Regions from separate parts of the Homo sapiens genome. Here region 2 is linked to region 1. A link means that fine-mapping ties the variant in region 1 to the expression of a gene that starts in the linked region. Tissue or cell type: whole blood. Region 1 holds a variant in brackets; the other region holds the start of a gene. All regions are shown on one strand. Distances are from middle to middle.

Evidence for each region. PIP is the estimated chance that this variant, and not a neighbour inherited with it, causes the effect.
Region 2: ACER3 starts here. The variant in region 1 is fine-mapped to the expression of ACER3 in whole blood (INTERVAL, PIP above 0.99).

What each region holds. Positions count from the first base shown.
Region 1 is chr11:76,976,214-76,984,315 of GRCh38, reverse strand. It overlaps ACER3 (alkaline ceramidase 3), which reads right to left. Exons shown (of 11, transcript NM_018367.7): 4 at 7,975-8,027. The region is part of intron 1 of ACER3-AS1 (ACER antisense RNA 1); the gene reads left to right. Among named protein-coding and RNA genes, the nearest start is that of B3GNT6, 54 kb to the left of the region's middle. The variant A/TA (reference allele first, on the strand shown) is at 4,476.
Region 2 is chr11:76,857,565-76,865,666 of GRCh38, reverse strand. ACER3 (alkaline ceramidase 3) reads right to left here and starts at 4,749. Exons shown (of 11, transcript NM_018367.7): 1 at 4,588-4,749. The coding sequence starts at 4,690. RefSeq lists silencers at 4,677-4,936, 4,977-5,076.

The DNA of each region.
Region 1 (8,102 bases):
GTTAAGAAACCAAAGGTCTTTAGGAGGCCTGGCTTGTATTTATTACCATGGTTATTTCACTTTATTACATATAGTCACTTTCTTATCTGTCCCCTTCCTCAGACAATGAGTTCCTGATTCTGTATCTACAGAGCCTAGGATCATGCCTAAAATAAAGGAGGTTTTCCAGTACATGTTTCACAAATGAACAAGCACACAGAAGGCAAGACAGATTTAAAAATCATTAGAGCCCAGGTGCGGTGGCTCACGCCTGTAATCCCAGCACTTTGGGAGGCCGAGGTGGGTAGATCACAAGGTCAGGAGTTCGAGACCAGTCTGGCCAACACAGTGAAACCCCATCTCTACTAAAAATACAAAAAAATTAGTCGTTGCAGGTGTATGCCTGTAATCCCAGCTACTCGGGAGGCTGAGGCAGGAGAATCGCGTGAATCCGGGAGGCAGAGGTTGCAGTGAGCCAAGATTGCGCCATTGCACTCCAGCCTGGGCGACAGTGTGAGACTGTCTCAAAAAAAAAAAAAATCATTAGAGGTCTAGACTGCTTCACATATTTGATATGTTCAAAGAATATCCTAAGGAATCAACAGAAAAATGAATAAGTTATCAAAGTGATAAGATAAAAGGTCAATATACAAAAATCACTTATATTTCTAAATGCTGGCTATGAACAATTGGAATATAAAGCTTTTAAAAAGCAATACTGTGGTCAAGTGCAGTGGCTTACGCCTGTAATTCCAGCACTTTGGGAGGCTGAGGCAGGAAGATTGCTTGAGGTCAGGAGTTCGAGACCAGCTTGGGCAACATGGCAAAATCTCGTCTCTACAAAAATTCAAAAATTAGCTGGGCATGGTGGAGCGCACTTGTAGTCGCAGCTACTTGAGAGGCTAAGTAGGAGGATGGCTTGAGCCTGGGATGAGGAGATTGCAGTGAGCCAAGATCGTGCCAATGCCCTCCAGCCTGGGTGAGAGCCAGACCCCATGTCAAAAAAGAAAAAAAAGCAATACTATTGAAAATAGCATCCTAACCATGAAAAACATAGGGCTAAATTTAACAAAGATCAATTCACTTAAAATCACAAAAAGTCACTTGGATAAATTAAAGAACCACATTCATGGTTTGGGAGACTTAGTAATGTTAAGATATTAACTTTCCTCAAACTGGTCTATAGAGTCGAAGAAATTACAGTCAATCTTCCAGCAGGCTATTTTGTAAAAATTGACAAGCTGACTCTAAAATTTATGTGGAAATGCAAAGGAACTAAAATTTCCAAAGCTATACTGAAAAAGAACAAAAGTGAAGGACTTATTCTAACTGACTTCAAGATTTACAATAAAGCTACAGTAACTAGACAGTATGAGGATACACGCAGTGATCAATAAAACAGAATTGAGAAAAAAGTCAAGATAATTTAATGCAGAAAGAATAATCTCAAAAGATGGTTCTGGAACAACTAGATACTGGTAAGGAAAACATGATCTTTGACAAAACTAACTCAAAATAGATCATGGACCTAAATGTAAAATAAAGTTATAAGACTTCTAGAAAAAATAAACAAACAAAATATTTTTGATCCTGGGAAGGCAAAGATCTCTTATGACACAAAAACACTATTCATGAACATTTAAAAAATAAATTGGATTTTATAACAATTTAAAACTTCTGTTCTTCAAGAGACATTAAATGAAAAGACAATTCACAGACTGGAAAAATATTTAAAATACAAATATCTGACAGGACTTGAACCCAAAATAGATAAAGAATTTTTACAATTCAAAAAGAAAAAAAGCTATTTTATAAAAATGGGGGCTGGGTACAGTGGCTCATGCCTGTAATCCCAGCACTTTGGGAGGCCAAGGCAGGCGGATCACAAGGTCAAGAGATCGAGACCATCCTGGCCAACATGGTGAAACCCCATCTCTACTAAAAATACAAAAATTAGCTGGAGGTGGTGGCGGGTGCCTGTAGTCCCAGCTACTTGGGAGGCTGAGGCAGGAGAATCACTTGAACCCGGGAGGCAGAGGTTGCAGTGAGCCGAGATCGCACCACTGCACTCCAGAGTGGCGACAGAGCGAGACTCTGTCTCAAAAAAAAAAAAAAAAAGGAAAAAGGTTTGAATAGATTGAATAGATAGTTCTTAATATAACACATACAAATGGACAATTAGAATAAAAAAAGATGCACATCATTAGTCACTAAGAAAATACAAATTAAAACACCACAGAGATAGTATATCATACTCACTAGAATGACTAAAATAAAAAAGACTGATAATACCAAGTCTTGGCAAGTATATGGAGCAAATGGAAGTTTCATATATTGCCAGTAGAACAATAATAAGGTGCAACTAAATTGAAAAACAGTTTGGCAGTTTCCTATAAAGTAAAACATATACTTACCATACAACATAGAAATTCCACTTCTAGGTATATACCCAAGAGAAATGAAGTCATATATCCATACAAAGACTTGTTAACAGATGTCCATGGTCCCTTTATTCATAGTAGCCCCAAACTGGCAATAACCTTAATGTTCAACATTGGTAAACAGTATAAAATGGAATACTACTAATGATATATGTAACAACATACATGAATATATTCATCAAAAGTAATTGGCAAATTAGTGCCCTCAAAAAATATTATACTGAATAAAAGAATCCAGTTACAAAAGAGTACATATGGTATAATTTCTTTTATATAAAATTCCAGAGCAGACAAACTAATCTATAATTATAGAAAGTAGATCAGTGGTGGCCTGGAGGCCAGGGTAGGTGTCAGTATTAACTGCAATGGGTCAGAAAAGAATGTTCTAATGTGATAGAAATGTTCTGTTTCTCTTTCTTGCCATAAGGGTAATGGGTAAATAGGAGTATACATTTGTCAAAACTCATCAAACCATACACTTAAACTGGGTGCATTTTATTCCATGTAAACTGTGTGTCAATACAGTGGATTAAAAATTATTTCACCCCTTTCATTTCCTTCTAAGTGTCACTTAAAGTGTACTACAGCAGGCTCTTTCTGAATGGGGGAATATGATCATAAACAGATAGTGCAGAAGATTGCTGAGGAAAGATTAGAATCCAGAGACATAGTTTTTGAGAAACAAAAGCTTTGCATGCTCTTTTTATATATTCTTTTTTATACTCTGAGGTGGTAGCAATGATGAAACTTATGTTTAATTCACTATGACAGGACACCATGCTCCATTTTCATATAATGGCAAGCTCTATCCCTTTCTACTCCACTGAACTTTGTATGTCTCAGGTATAGTATTAATCACATCACATGAAAGCTGCTTGTTTCTGGTTCTGTTTCTTTTACTAAACTACAAATTTCTTGAGGTAAAAGGACTATTTCTTACTTAATTTCCCAGTTCCTAGAGCCTATCACAGTGCATGATACATGAATAGCATACAATAAGTTTATTTTATAAACAAATCATTTATTTTAATCTTCATGGGAAATTTATAAGTACTATAATCTCCACTTTTACAAACGAAGGAACAAAGGTTGACTTACTTAAGCTCATTCAGTTACTAAATATCAGAGCTGAAAATTGATCTACATTATCAGTATCCTTCTAAGTAATATCTGCTGTTCCCTAGCACTAAAACTATTTTTCTTTTTCTTTTTTTTTTGAGACAGGGTCTTGCTCTGTCCCCTAGGTAGAGTGCAGTAGCAGCACAATCGTGGCTCATTGCAACCTCAACCTCCTGGGGCTCAGGCAGTCCTTCTGCCTTAGCCTCCTGTGTAGCTGGGACAGAGGTGTGCACCATCATGCAAGCTAATTTTTTAATTTTTTTGTAGTGACAGGGTCTCACTATACTGCCCAGGCTGGTCTTGAACTCCTGGGCTCAAGTAATACTCCTGCCTTGGCCTTCCAAAGTGCTGGTATTACAGATGTGAGCAACTATGCCCAGCTCCTAGCACTAATACTTAAGAGTTCTTTGTACCCATTATATGATGGTTATCTGATTCTTTTCAGTATAGTCATAATTGCTAGCTCAAGAATATCTTCTCCTAAAGATATATAAACATCAGAATAGTTTTTAAAATATGTTATTAAAAGGAGTTTACCTTATTTTTTTAGACCAAGGTGACAAACTATGGCTCAAGAGCCAATCTCTTGGCCTGAGCCTGTTTTTTTTTGTTAGTTTGGTATTGGTTTTTGTTTTTCTTGAGACAGGGTCTCCCTCTGTTTCCCAGGCTGAAGTGCAGTGGCACAATCATGGTTCACTGCAGCCTCAACCTCCAGGGCCCAAGTGATTCTCCCACCTCAGCCTCCCAAGTAGCTGAAATTACAGGCATGCACTACCATGCCTGGCTAATTTTGTAATTTTTGTAGAGATAAGGTCTCCCTATGTTGCCCAGGCTTATCTTGAACTCCTGGGCTCAAGCGATCCTCCCACCTTGGCCTCCAAAAGTGCTGGGATTACATTTGTGAGCACTGTGCCCAGCTAAACCTGTTTTTTTTTT[A/TA]ATAAAATGTTACTGGAACATAGTCACACTCATTTATTTACATATTATCTGTGGCAGCTTCCAAGCTACAATAGCAGAGTTGAAGAGCTGCAACAGAGACTCCTGTCCTACAAAGCCTAAAATATTTATCATCTGGCCCTTTACAGAAAAAGTTTTCTGATCCCCGTTCTATATCTTTTTTTCTGGGGGGGACAGGGTCTCACTCTGTCACCCAGGCTGGAGTGTAGTGGTGCCATCTCAGCTCACTGCAGCTTCTGCCTCCTGGGTTCAAGCGATTCTCCCACCTTAGCCTCTCGAGTAGCTGGGACTACAGGCACACATCACCACGCCTGGCTAATTTTTTGTATTTTTAGCAGAGACAGGTTTTCACCATGTTGGCCAGGCTGCTGTTCTATATCTTCTTACCTAACTTTGAAATAGGGCTTGACACCATATGGGTCATAGCAGCTAGATGGGCATTCTTACTTTTATTGTTTCTGGATAAAGATCAGTTTTAGTAAAGGTCAGAGCCAACAGTGATATAGTTGGTTATAGCTAACTAAAAATAAAAGAAAAAAATCTTTCAATTACTTTAGTGTGTACCATTAACTTTGAGAGAGGTATTAGGAAGTAGAAGTCAGATATGAACTGCTTTGAATTGTGGCTCCACCACTTAAAAGTGTCTCAGGATCCTTAGGGTGTTGCTTTTCTAGCCAGAAACCTCTGTGGCTGGTGGCACCTTTGCCCAAGTTTTGTTCTGGCCCACTGGGCTCATTCTGCCCACTCGGCCTGGCAGGCTGCACTTGGCTCATGCTACCAGCCTGGATCCCATGCCTGCCAAGGGGAAGCCAGGAATGGAGCAGTGAGAAGTGTTTAATGAGCAAGCTTGGGGTCTAGCCACTGTGCACAGCCAGGCACACTGGCTACTGCAGCAGGGCAGGCAGCTCCAGAAGCCAGCATAGGCACTGGCTCCATGTAAGCCTGCGGTTTGATCAGATACACCGTAAGCATCTTCCACTGTGGGCACCCCCATCTGGACAAGGGGAATGCAGTGGTGCCTGGAAACTGGGAGATGCCAGAAACCACCAAGCCCCCAAAAGGGTGTCACAGCCCTGGCTCGCGGAGCCCCTAGGTCTGGGCTCCCTGAAGGGCCACAGCTCTTCTCTCCTTCTTATCTCCTGCAATGTGGCAAGCTGGGGAGAGGGATATGTTTCAGCCCTGTTTGTGTTACATCTCTTTCAGCCCACCATTTGGCAAGTCCTAAGTTCTTGTCCTGCATCCAGGAAGAATGAGGTATGCGGACAACTGGAGGGTGAACAAGGTGGAAAGGAGCTTTATTGAGTGACAGAACAGCTCTTGGGAGACCCAAAGTGGGTGGCTCCTATCTGCAGGCAGGTCATCCCAGTGAATGTCCAGCTCTCAGTGGAGAGGAGACCCAGAGTGGGCAGCTCCTATTCGCAGGTAGGTCCTCCAGTCATCTGTGTGAGTCTGGCTGGGTCTGGGGTTTTTATGGGCTCGGGAGGGAGGAAGTGAGTGCTGATTGATCAATGGGCAGCCATGGGAGGGCTTGGAAAAAGCACTGTAAGTTCTCACTCTGGGCCACAGACTCCACCCGGAAATGACAGCCTGGCCCCCAGGCTTCAGGCTGTCCCCGGCTTGAAGGTGGAGCTTCACCGGGGACTGCCCCTTTCTGCCCAGGAACCTGTCTGCCTCCTGCCACCATCAATGTATGGCCCATGGTGCCCAGGCTGTTCTTGCCGAGGGGTGCCTGCAGGCCCACACCAAGCTGCCCTCAGTCCCCGCCTCGGCCTCCCTCCCATGCTTGTCAGTGCCTAAAGTCCAGAGGGGGCGGAGGTGGCAGGGGGCTGGCATGTCAGCACCACCCCAAGCACATGCACACCTGGCCAAGTTGTGGCAGCACCCGGGCTCGGCCACAGCTTTGCTCTGCCCTGGAGTGGGAGCTGGGAGCGGAGAGAAGCCAGGCAGTGGGAGCAGGCACTTTCAAGCCTGCAGGGGCAAGGGGTTTCCTGGAACTCCAAGAGTGCAGGGATGCCCAGGTCCAGAGCCATGGCTGGGCATCTGCAGCTGTGCCCGGGAGTGTGGGGCTCCTGCCCCACCAACTCAGTAGGGGACGGGGTTCCCACCTGTTCCCGGCCCCCACCAGCACTGCCTCCCCTGCTGCAGCCAGCATCTTTGCAGTGGCTGCTCTAACTGGGCTACTGCTGCCCTCAAAAGCCTCGTTACTAGGGCCTGACTCAGGCATGTGGGTCCCTACATAAGCTAGTAATTTTTTTGCCCCTCCAAACACATATTCTTAACATACTTGTCCAACATTTAGAGAAGGCTGATGTTGCAGGGTAATGGGTGAAGGAGGCTTTCCTCTAATGTTCCCAGTGACTTAGCTAGAGCCCAAACCTGCATACCCTAACTTACTCAAATAGAAGACCTATAGCTAACCTCACCCACCCTCCTTAGAAGGCACATTATTTGATCATGCAGTACAGGAAGGGTCTCACTTCTACACTTCTACCACATACCCAGGCAGCCTATCAAAGTGTTCTTCCAACCTCTCCTTGAGAGGAATTGTGATCATTGTAATTTTCTCCATCATGATATATTTCCAGGGATATTTCAGTGTTCCTTAGAGACTGTTTACCTGGACAATGGCCTGGCCAGTATGCTTTTAAATCAAGTTCTGTTTTTGTCCATAGACAAGTTACTACATCTCTCTGTGCTTTACTTCCTTGTCTATAAAATGGGGCCAATACCCATTTATCTTGCATAGTTGTTGAGAATTAGAGATGGCATTGTACACTGCCTAGCACAGTACAAAGCAGTTACATATTAGCATTTATTAATGTTACTATCATAATCATTTTTATCTTTCAAGATTGATTTTTTCCTTGACATTCAGGAAATGCAAATTAACTTGATAATAAAGTAAACAGAATATAATACAGTAAGAGAACTTTGGATTGGGAATGGCCTGTAAGCTGTTTCCATATTTGTAAATAACCAATCAAAATAAGTATATTCTTGAGAGCATTTAGTCTACCTTAGAATAAGAAAGCAAGTATCTATTTAAAAGATAACTTCAAACAAAAAGGAGATTAAGTTGACACGATCACTATACAACTAGAAGTGTACCTCACTTTTCTGGTAAGCGTCTTGTTAAACTATATTGTAGAATACAGAAACTGTATCTGAAAACTTTTATGGCACAATATGAAAATCTTTATCTAAATTTGTACACATTATTCACTTGGGAAAGGAAAATTATGGAATTTAAGCTATTTAGATCCTATCTAAATTGGCTACAGGGTTTTGAGATCACAAAAGTTAATAAACAACATTATTGTAACTTCCCAGAAATTATACTCTATATTGATATCATAAAATTTATAATCTTCTACATTATTAAAATATCCTAGTAATATAAATGTATCAGTTATATTAATCCACTATGAGGTAAATATAAATTTAAAAATAAATCAAACAATGAAATTTTAAAAGTACTTACATGCAGTACACAAATATGCAACAGCTGTATATCATTGGGAGTTCATCCAATAGCTGTAAGAAACAAAGATAGATAACAGGCTTGAATATCATGGAGCAGCAATTATTATGCAAATCAAAATAAAACAT
Region 2 (8,102 bases), 120 kb after region 1:
CATGGTGGTGCACTCCTGTAATCCCAGTTATGTGGGTGGCTGAGGCACGAGAATTGCTTGAACCCAGGAGCTGGAGGTTGCAGTGAGCCAAGATTGCGCCACTGCACTCCAGCCTGGGTGACAGAGCGAGATTCCGTCTGGAAAAAAAAAAAAAATGCAATCTGAGGAATTCAGAGAAAGAGAAGGCAAACTTATCAACGTAAATGCATAAAGTAGTTGTGGTGAAAAGGATAAAGATGTCCCAGGAGAAATTATGCTAACAAAAAAAACTTTGCATTAAAGGAACTCTTGGAGAGATTTCACAATCTTAAAAGTGCAAAGGATAAATTTTGGAAGCTGATACAAATTAGAAAAGAATTCATGAAGGGATAGTACTCATCCCGGCTGGGCATGGTGGCTCATGCCTATATTCTCAACACTTTGGGAGGCTGAGGTGGGAGGACTGCTTGAGCTCAGGAGTTTGAGACCAGCTTGGGCAACATGGCAAAACCCTGTCTCTACTAAAAATCCAAAAAAAAAAAAAAAAAATTAGCTGGGCATGGTGGCACACGCCTGTAGTCCCAGCTATGGGGTACTGAGGTGGCAGGATCACTTGAGCCTGGGAGGTCGAGGCTGCAGTGAGCTGTGATTGTGCCACTGCACTCCAGCCTAAGCAACAGAGGGAGACCTTGTCTCAAGAAAAATCCAAAAACCTGTTGGCCCTCATTAGTGTAGCTGTAGCTGGCTAAAAAAAAAAAAAAAAAAAAATTAATTTAAAAGAAAAAAGACAACTGGGCATGGAAGTTCACGCCTGTAATCCCAGCACTTTGGGAGGCTGAACAGGTGGATCACTTGAGGTCAGGAGTTCGAGACCAGCCTGGCCAAAATGGTGAAACCCCGTCTCCACTAAAAATACAAAAATTAGCCAGGCGTGGTGGCATGCGCCTGTAATCCCAGCTACTTGGGAGGCTGAGGCAGGAGAACTGCTTGAACCCAGGGGGTGGAGGTTGCAGTGAGCCGAGATCGCGACACTGCATTCCAGCCTAGGCAACAGAGCGAGACTCTACCTCAAAAAAAAAAAAAAAAAAAAATACCCATTCCATATTATGAGTTATGTGACAAAAAGGCAAGCACTGTTTTAATTACTCTTGATAAGTGATTTTTATAAACAAAATAGTTTATTTCTCAATGTTTTTAATGTTTTAAAGTATACTAAATAAATATGCTTACTTTTTTCATTTCCCTACATATTCATAACCAACAGTAAGAGAGTTTACAATGTTTGACAAAAAGTTTTAAAGATCACAGAACAATCATAACTTTTCCCATTGATTATTAACATAGTGTTACCTGGTTTTAACTTGCACAGTCATTTGTGTGGTCCCACACTATGATGCAAAGCAAGGACTGCCTGTACCTCTAACTTCTGGCAGGTCAAGGGGCTTATTATTTCACAATGAGAGACCTTTTCCTCTGGTCTTTACAATATGCTCAAACAAAAGGAATTTAAACTGATCTTGGCTGATGCTAGGAAGACAGTTTTCGGGTGCTGAAAGTGACTGAGAACTACTGCCATATCTGAATATGCAATTCCCCAAACACTTCATTATTCCCTAAAATACATATATTCTAATGCTGAAAGATAGTTGAAAGATGGTTGAGTAAACTGAATAGTTGTTCAATTTGTCCTGTGTGATAGCATAGTATTTCATATCTGTCTTCCTTTCTTGAATATAGGGGCAAAACAATGAATGTGTGATAGAAGTAATGATGGAGAGGTAACATGGATAGTAGCTTTAGAGTCAGACTTCAATGTGAACACTATCTCTACATCACTTACTGTAATCTTAGGTAAATTATTTCTTAGAACTTCAATCTCCTTATCTTTGAAATGGGGATAATAATACCTTCTTTTTGAAATTACTGTAAAGATCAAAAGAGATAAGATATATGAAGTGCTTAGCAAAGTGTAGTACAAGTGACCACTTAGATAATAGCTATTATTACATTATCCTTAATATTACCATCAATACTATTGTTAATGTAAATACTATCGTGATGTTAATATTGCACTTGCTTTAAACACATATTTTAAACATATTATTATTAATCAGCATATTTTTCAAAGATCAAATTATCTTAGTCCAAGATATATTACTGTAGATACTCATGACTTGCTATGGTAAGATGACTTGACCTCAACTTCCTCCAGATGATTTTCTCCCAAGGTGCATGCGCAAAGGGCTGCAAACATTCACTCATCCTCTTCTTGCAACCCCTCTGATTCCTATGTCAAAACCCTCCCTGCAGTCTGCTCAGAGTTTCCTCTTCTGAGCACATTGAGAACAAATGTCATTTCCCATTTCTCAGAGCTATCTGCCAGAACACAGTATCTTGCTCTCTCAGAGTCCACATGACTTACCGCCAGTTTTCTCTCTTTGCATTTTTTATATTTTTTTTGTAGAAATAGGGTCTAACTCTTGCCCAGGCTGGAGTGCAGTGGCATAATTACAGCTCACAGCAACCTTGAACTCCTGGGCTCAAGTGATCTTCCCACCTCAGTCTCCTAAGTAGCTGGGACTACAGGCACAAACCACCATGCATATCTAATTTTTTTTATTTTTTATGGAGACAGGGTCTCACTATGTTGCCCAGGCTGGACTCAAACTCCTGGCCTCAAGCAGTCCTCCTGCCTTGGCCTCCCAAAGTGCTGGGATTACAGGCATGGGCCACGATGCCCAGCCCAGTTTTTTCTTGGTTCTAAACTAAGAGTCATTATTACCTACATAGACCCATAAAGCTGCAACTAAGGCCAGCCCCTTTTCTCTATTAAATAATTTTTTCCTTCGAAAATATTGAGTTCATTGAACAATGTCTGATTTAACACTTTCAGTGACAGAAAGTCCTCTGTCCCCCAAGTCAACCTTTCCCATATCATTGGTGAGAAGGTTTTTCCTTATATTGAAGCAAACTTTTCCCCATTACAGTTAGTTTCTGCCCATATGCCCTAATTCCAGATTCCAAATAAATTAAAAAAAAATTATTCTATATGATAGCCCATCCAATATTTGAAGACTCTTGAATTCCTCTTTTCCATGTTACACATTTCCAGCGCAGAGTGCATGGTTTTACATCTCTTTCCTCGTGGTCATGGTTCTCTGGACCAGGCATGGGCTTGCCAAAGTGATCTAACAACAAACTGGTAAAGCGCTTCCTTTGCCAACATGTGGGTTCCCAAGTAATTGTATTACAAATGATCCCTTTGCCAATATTTCTCCATGATTATGTAAAAATTATTAATTTAATAGTTGAAGAAAAGTGACTCTTAGCCTAAATCATGGTCATAAGAGAATAGTACTAAAGTCCTGAAAACTGCAAAAAGTGTTCTTTTTTTTTTTTTTTGAAACTTAGCCAATTACCAGAACAGAATAAAGTGGGACCATTTGTCATGATATGCTTGCCTCTTTCCTACAAAGCCATGCACAGATGCCTGAGAACAGGACTCAACAATGAGAAGGTTAGCTAAGAAGAGTTTCACTTCACGTCCTGAGAAGTAGATCCAACTAAAAGAAGGCAGTAATCATTAGCCAAAGGATAGTCTTTGCACTTTGCCAGAAGCAGGTACCTAAAAGAAGGATCAAATATTGTGCTCTCAAAACCTGATTAAATGATAGAAAAAGAAGTGGCAGATTTCTCCTAGCCTGGCAGGAAAAATCGTCTAGGAAAACAGACAGACACCCACATAGGCACACAGAACAAGCCCAACCTGACCAGCAGTGCCTGACAGAGCAGCCGCTAAAGAAGAATGCTTAAATCCTCAGAAGGTGCAGTCGGTGGAAGTAGTGTCCTCAGATGACCCCTAACTCCTAGATAGTTGGATAGGACAGAATGGAGCAGGGACTTGGTCCTCTGTGCTCTTGGGAGCCTGGCAGGGGCAGAAGGTACAGGCTAGGTGCAAGATGCCTTCGACTCCTGGTGCAAGATGACAGTTGAATAATCATACTCAGAGAGCAGATGACCTCTGGTACTTGAAGACATCCTGGGGGATAGGGGTGGGATGGTTCAGATCTCAGACTAGTGAAACTGTTCCCTGGAGGTGAGCAAGGAGGTCTAATATTCCAGTGAAAAGGGAAGGGAAAGACGGTAGAATTCTCACGGATTGGGGGAAAGACGAAGCTAGGAACTGTACCCTTCTGGTGGTGGCAACAGCAGAGCAGGTGTCCTGGGCCCTCATTCCAAGGGGCAGGGTCCTCCACTCTCCCAGCCTGGCCCCACTCCGCTCTCGGGCAGGAATTCCCATTCCCAACCCGGCTCTTCAGGCTTTCCCCCTTAGGTCCAGCAGGGGCTCCCCACTTCCCACTGCTCTTCTGCCCCCCCAATCCTCAGGCCCCCTTCCTCCCTCCCAGACCCCGGTACTCCTCCCTCTACACACTGGACTCCCGGCCCGCTCCTCTCAGCCTCCCGCTGGCCCAGGGCGCCGCATTCCAGCTCCCGGGGCCAGGCCTGGCACCTCCCTTCGCGGCCAGGTTCGCTCTTTGCCTTCCTCACACGGCGTCTCCTCAGCCCGGTGCCCTCTCGCCCCCACTCCCCTCCTCAGGCCACACTCACAGAACTCGGCGATGTACCAGGTCACGGAGTAGTTCTCCTCGCACCAGTCCAGCGTGGAGGTCGTGGGGCCCCAGTAGCCCTCTCGGTCCGCGGCCGGAGCCATCACGCCGCCGCCGCCGCCGCCCAGGCGCTCCGCTCACTGTGCCGGGTTAGGCTGGCGACCAGGCCGGCTCCGGCCCAGCCCGCGCGCTCGCTCGCGCCCCGCCCGGCCCTGCCTCCCCGAGGGGCGGGGCCTGGCGCCGTTACTGACACTGCCCTGACGGAGGCCCCGCCCACCGGCGCCGCTGGGCCGCGGGGCCGGGCCAGGCCCGACCTGGTGTAAGGCCCACTCGGAGGGCGCCGGCTGGCCCCGCCCCTCTTCACCCTTGGGCGGGGCAGGGGCGTGATCCAGGAAGGAGCCGGGGGCCTGGGCTTCCTGGCCGGTGCAGACACGCCAATGGCCGTAGGTTGGGGGTTCCTGACATCCCAGAGGCTATATTCTGTCAGGATGTGCCAGAGCCTCTATTTGTGTGCGTGTGGTTTGATTTAATCGGGGCGGGGGTGGGATGAATACTTCTATCAAGCCCTTGCTTGATTAAACCTGTGCGGCGAAGCGCCTCTATGTCTTCCATTGAGCCACAGGCCTCAAATGGAGCCCCAAAACAGAGTACCCCCAACCAATCCCCGTGATTCTCAGGAAATAAACCGTGATTTTCTGATAAAGGTGTAAGTGTCTCTTCGGTACAAAGGGAAAGGGTGAACAACCCAGGACCGAAAAAAAAAAAGTAGGTTCTGAGATCCTAAAAAAAAAGAATGCTGCTAGCTAGAGCACTAAAGCAAAGTTTCCCTGCTTCGTTTGGGCCTCCAAGCACAGAGGTTTCCACGTTCTAACTATAATTGTGCCCTGCTCTTCAGGCAACCAACAGCCTACCCCTACTTCCAACTTCAAGTCTAATACTCCCAGCCCCCGTCTGGGAGTATCGTAGACGGCAAAACCCCGTGTCTACGAAAAATACAAAAATTAGCTGGGCGCGGTGGCTCAGACGTGTGGTCCCAGCTACTTGAGAAGCTGAGGTGGGAGGATCACTTGAGCCCCCGCGGTGGAGATTGCATGCAGTGAGCTGAGACTGTGCCAATCCAGCCTGGGAGAACAGAGCGAGACCCTGTCTCTAAATAAATAAATAAATAAATAAATAAATAAATAAATAAAAAGTCTAGTACTCCACAGGTCTGCCAGAGAGCTCTTCCTAAAACAGATGCAACCACCCTTGCCCCTAGTGTTCAGCTACACCAAACTCAAACTTTCCCCTCTCCTAGAATGCGCTGGGTCACCTGCCTTTGCTCCCACAGTTCAACTGGGACAGCCTAACTCTCTTCTCCGTTTGACCAACTCCCCACTCTTCTTTTAAAATCCAGCTCTCTGAAGCCATCCCAGATGTTTACACCCTAGAGCTTCCTTGCCCTTTGTTCACATCCTACTGTGCTACATCCTGATCAGAGACCTTGCTTTCCCTTCTTTATGGTCTTAGTATTAGGACTCTGCCTGAATACACAGTAAGAAATGAAGAGTAAAAATGAAGGATGATACAACTGCTATTTTCTAAATAAATAAGTCAGATGTGGTGCAAGTCAAAGGTAAAAGAGAGGACAAGGAGAGATGAAGAGCCCACAGCCTTTCTACAAAATAACCATAGCCAATTAGCAGGAAATAGATGCAGAACTTTTATTTGCTAGGTGCAAAACCTAGGGAAGCAGTGTATCTTTTTTTTTTTTTTTTTTTTTTTTTGAGACAGTCTTGCTCTGTCGGCCAGGCTGGAATGCACTGGCATGATCTCAGCTCACCGCAACTTCCGCCCCCTGGGTTTAAGCGATTCTCCTGTCTCAGCCTCCAGAGTAGCTGGGACTACAGGTGTGCACCACCACGCCCAGCTAATTTTTGTATTTTTAGTAGAGACAGGGTTTCACCTTGTTGGCCAGGCTGGCCTCGATCTCTTGACCTCGTGATTCACCCGCCTCGGCCTCCCAAAGTGCTGGGATTACAGGCGTGAGCCATCGCACCCGGCCGGAAGCAGTGTATTTTAATACGAATAGTAGCCTCTCTGAAATTTTTCTTTTTTGAGACAGAATCTCGATCTGTCGCCCAGGCTGGAGTGCAGTGGTGCCATCTTGGCTCGCTGCAACTTCTGCCTTCCGGGAATCGTGCCTCAGTACCCCCTCATCCCCATAGCTGGGATTACAGGAGGCTGCCACCACACCTGGCTAATTTTTGTATTTTTAATAGAGACGAGATTTCACCATGTTGGCCAGGCCAGTCTTGAACTCCTGACCTTGAGTGATCCACCCTCCTTGGCCTCCGAAAGTCCTGGGATTACAGGCCTGAGTTACACCCTGCCTGGCCTGAAATTTTTATTTTGAATGTCATTGAGCTTCTACTATATACCAGGCCCTGTTTGGCTGCCTGGGTGCTAGGACCACACAGAGGTAAACATGAAAGATCCAAGAAGGCCGTCTCCAGAGAGATAAAAGCCATTGAGGTGTGGGGAAACATCTATTTCTAGTCACTTTATCTCATATTCTAAAACTTCCGTTTTGTTTATGTGTTTATGTAATAATCATGAGCATATATAATTTATAAATGAATGAAATATTTATATATTTATATGCTCAAAATGAATATGCAAAAACTCATACGCAAAAGTGATTTGCCGATGAGGTGTGCAATCAGAACAGTGCAGAGACCACAACAATAGAGTATGATCATTCTTAGCTAGGAGTAAAAAAAAAATTAGGGTGTTGTGGAACCCCCTATGTGAAAATAACCCCTGACCCAGCCAAGTGACTCAAGGCAGGATGAGGCCTTGGCTGAGTCAATACTCTGCACAATGTTCCTCAATAGTGAAAAAGGAAATCTACCGTGACCAGGACGGATTTTAGGAGAGAGAAATTCCCCCATCCGAGAGAAAAGGTGCATTGCAGAAGTTTCACTCAGAAAACACAAAATGAATTTCACAGTTCCTTCAGCAATATCTACCTTCCTTTTTCTTTTTTTCTAAAAAATTTCCCCCCTTGAGCATAAAAGCAATGCCTGGAAATGTAAGGGACCCAGACAAGTCAAAACTATCTCAAAAAAGAAGAACAAAGCTGGAGGACTTATACTTCCTGATTTCAACACTTACTGTAAAACTATAGTAATGAAGACAGTGCAGTACTGGCATGAAGATAGACATGTAGATCAAAGGAATCGAATTGAGAGTCCAGCAATAAACCCTTACATTTATGGTCAATTGATTTTTAACAAGGATGCCAAGACAATTCAATAGGGATTGAATAGTCTTTCAACAAATGGTGCTGGGACAACTGGATATCCACATGCAAAAGAATGAAATTAGAATGCTTCCTGTTACAATAAACAAAATTCAACTCAAAATAGATCATAGACCTAAATGTAAGAGCCAAAACTATACAATTCTTAGAAGTTTACATAAAAATAAATATTTGTAACCTTGGGTAGGCAATGGTTTCTTATATAAAACACC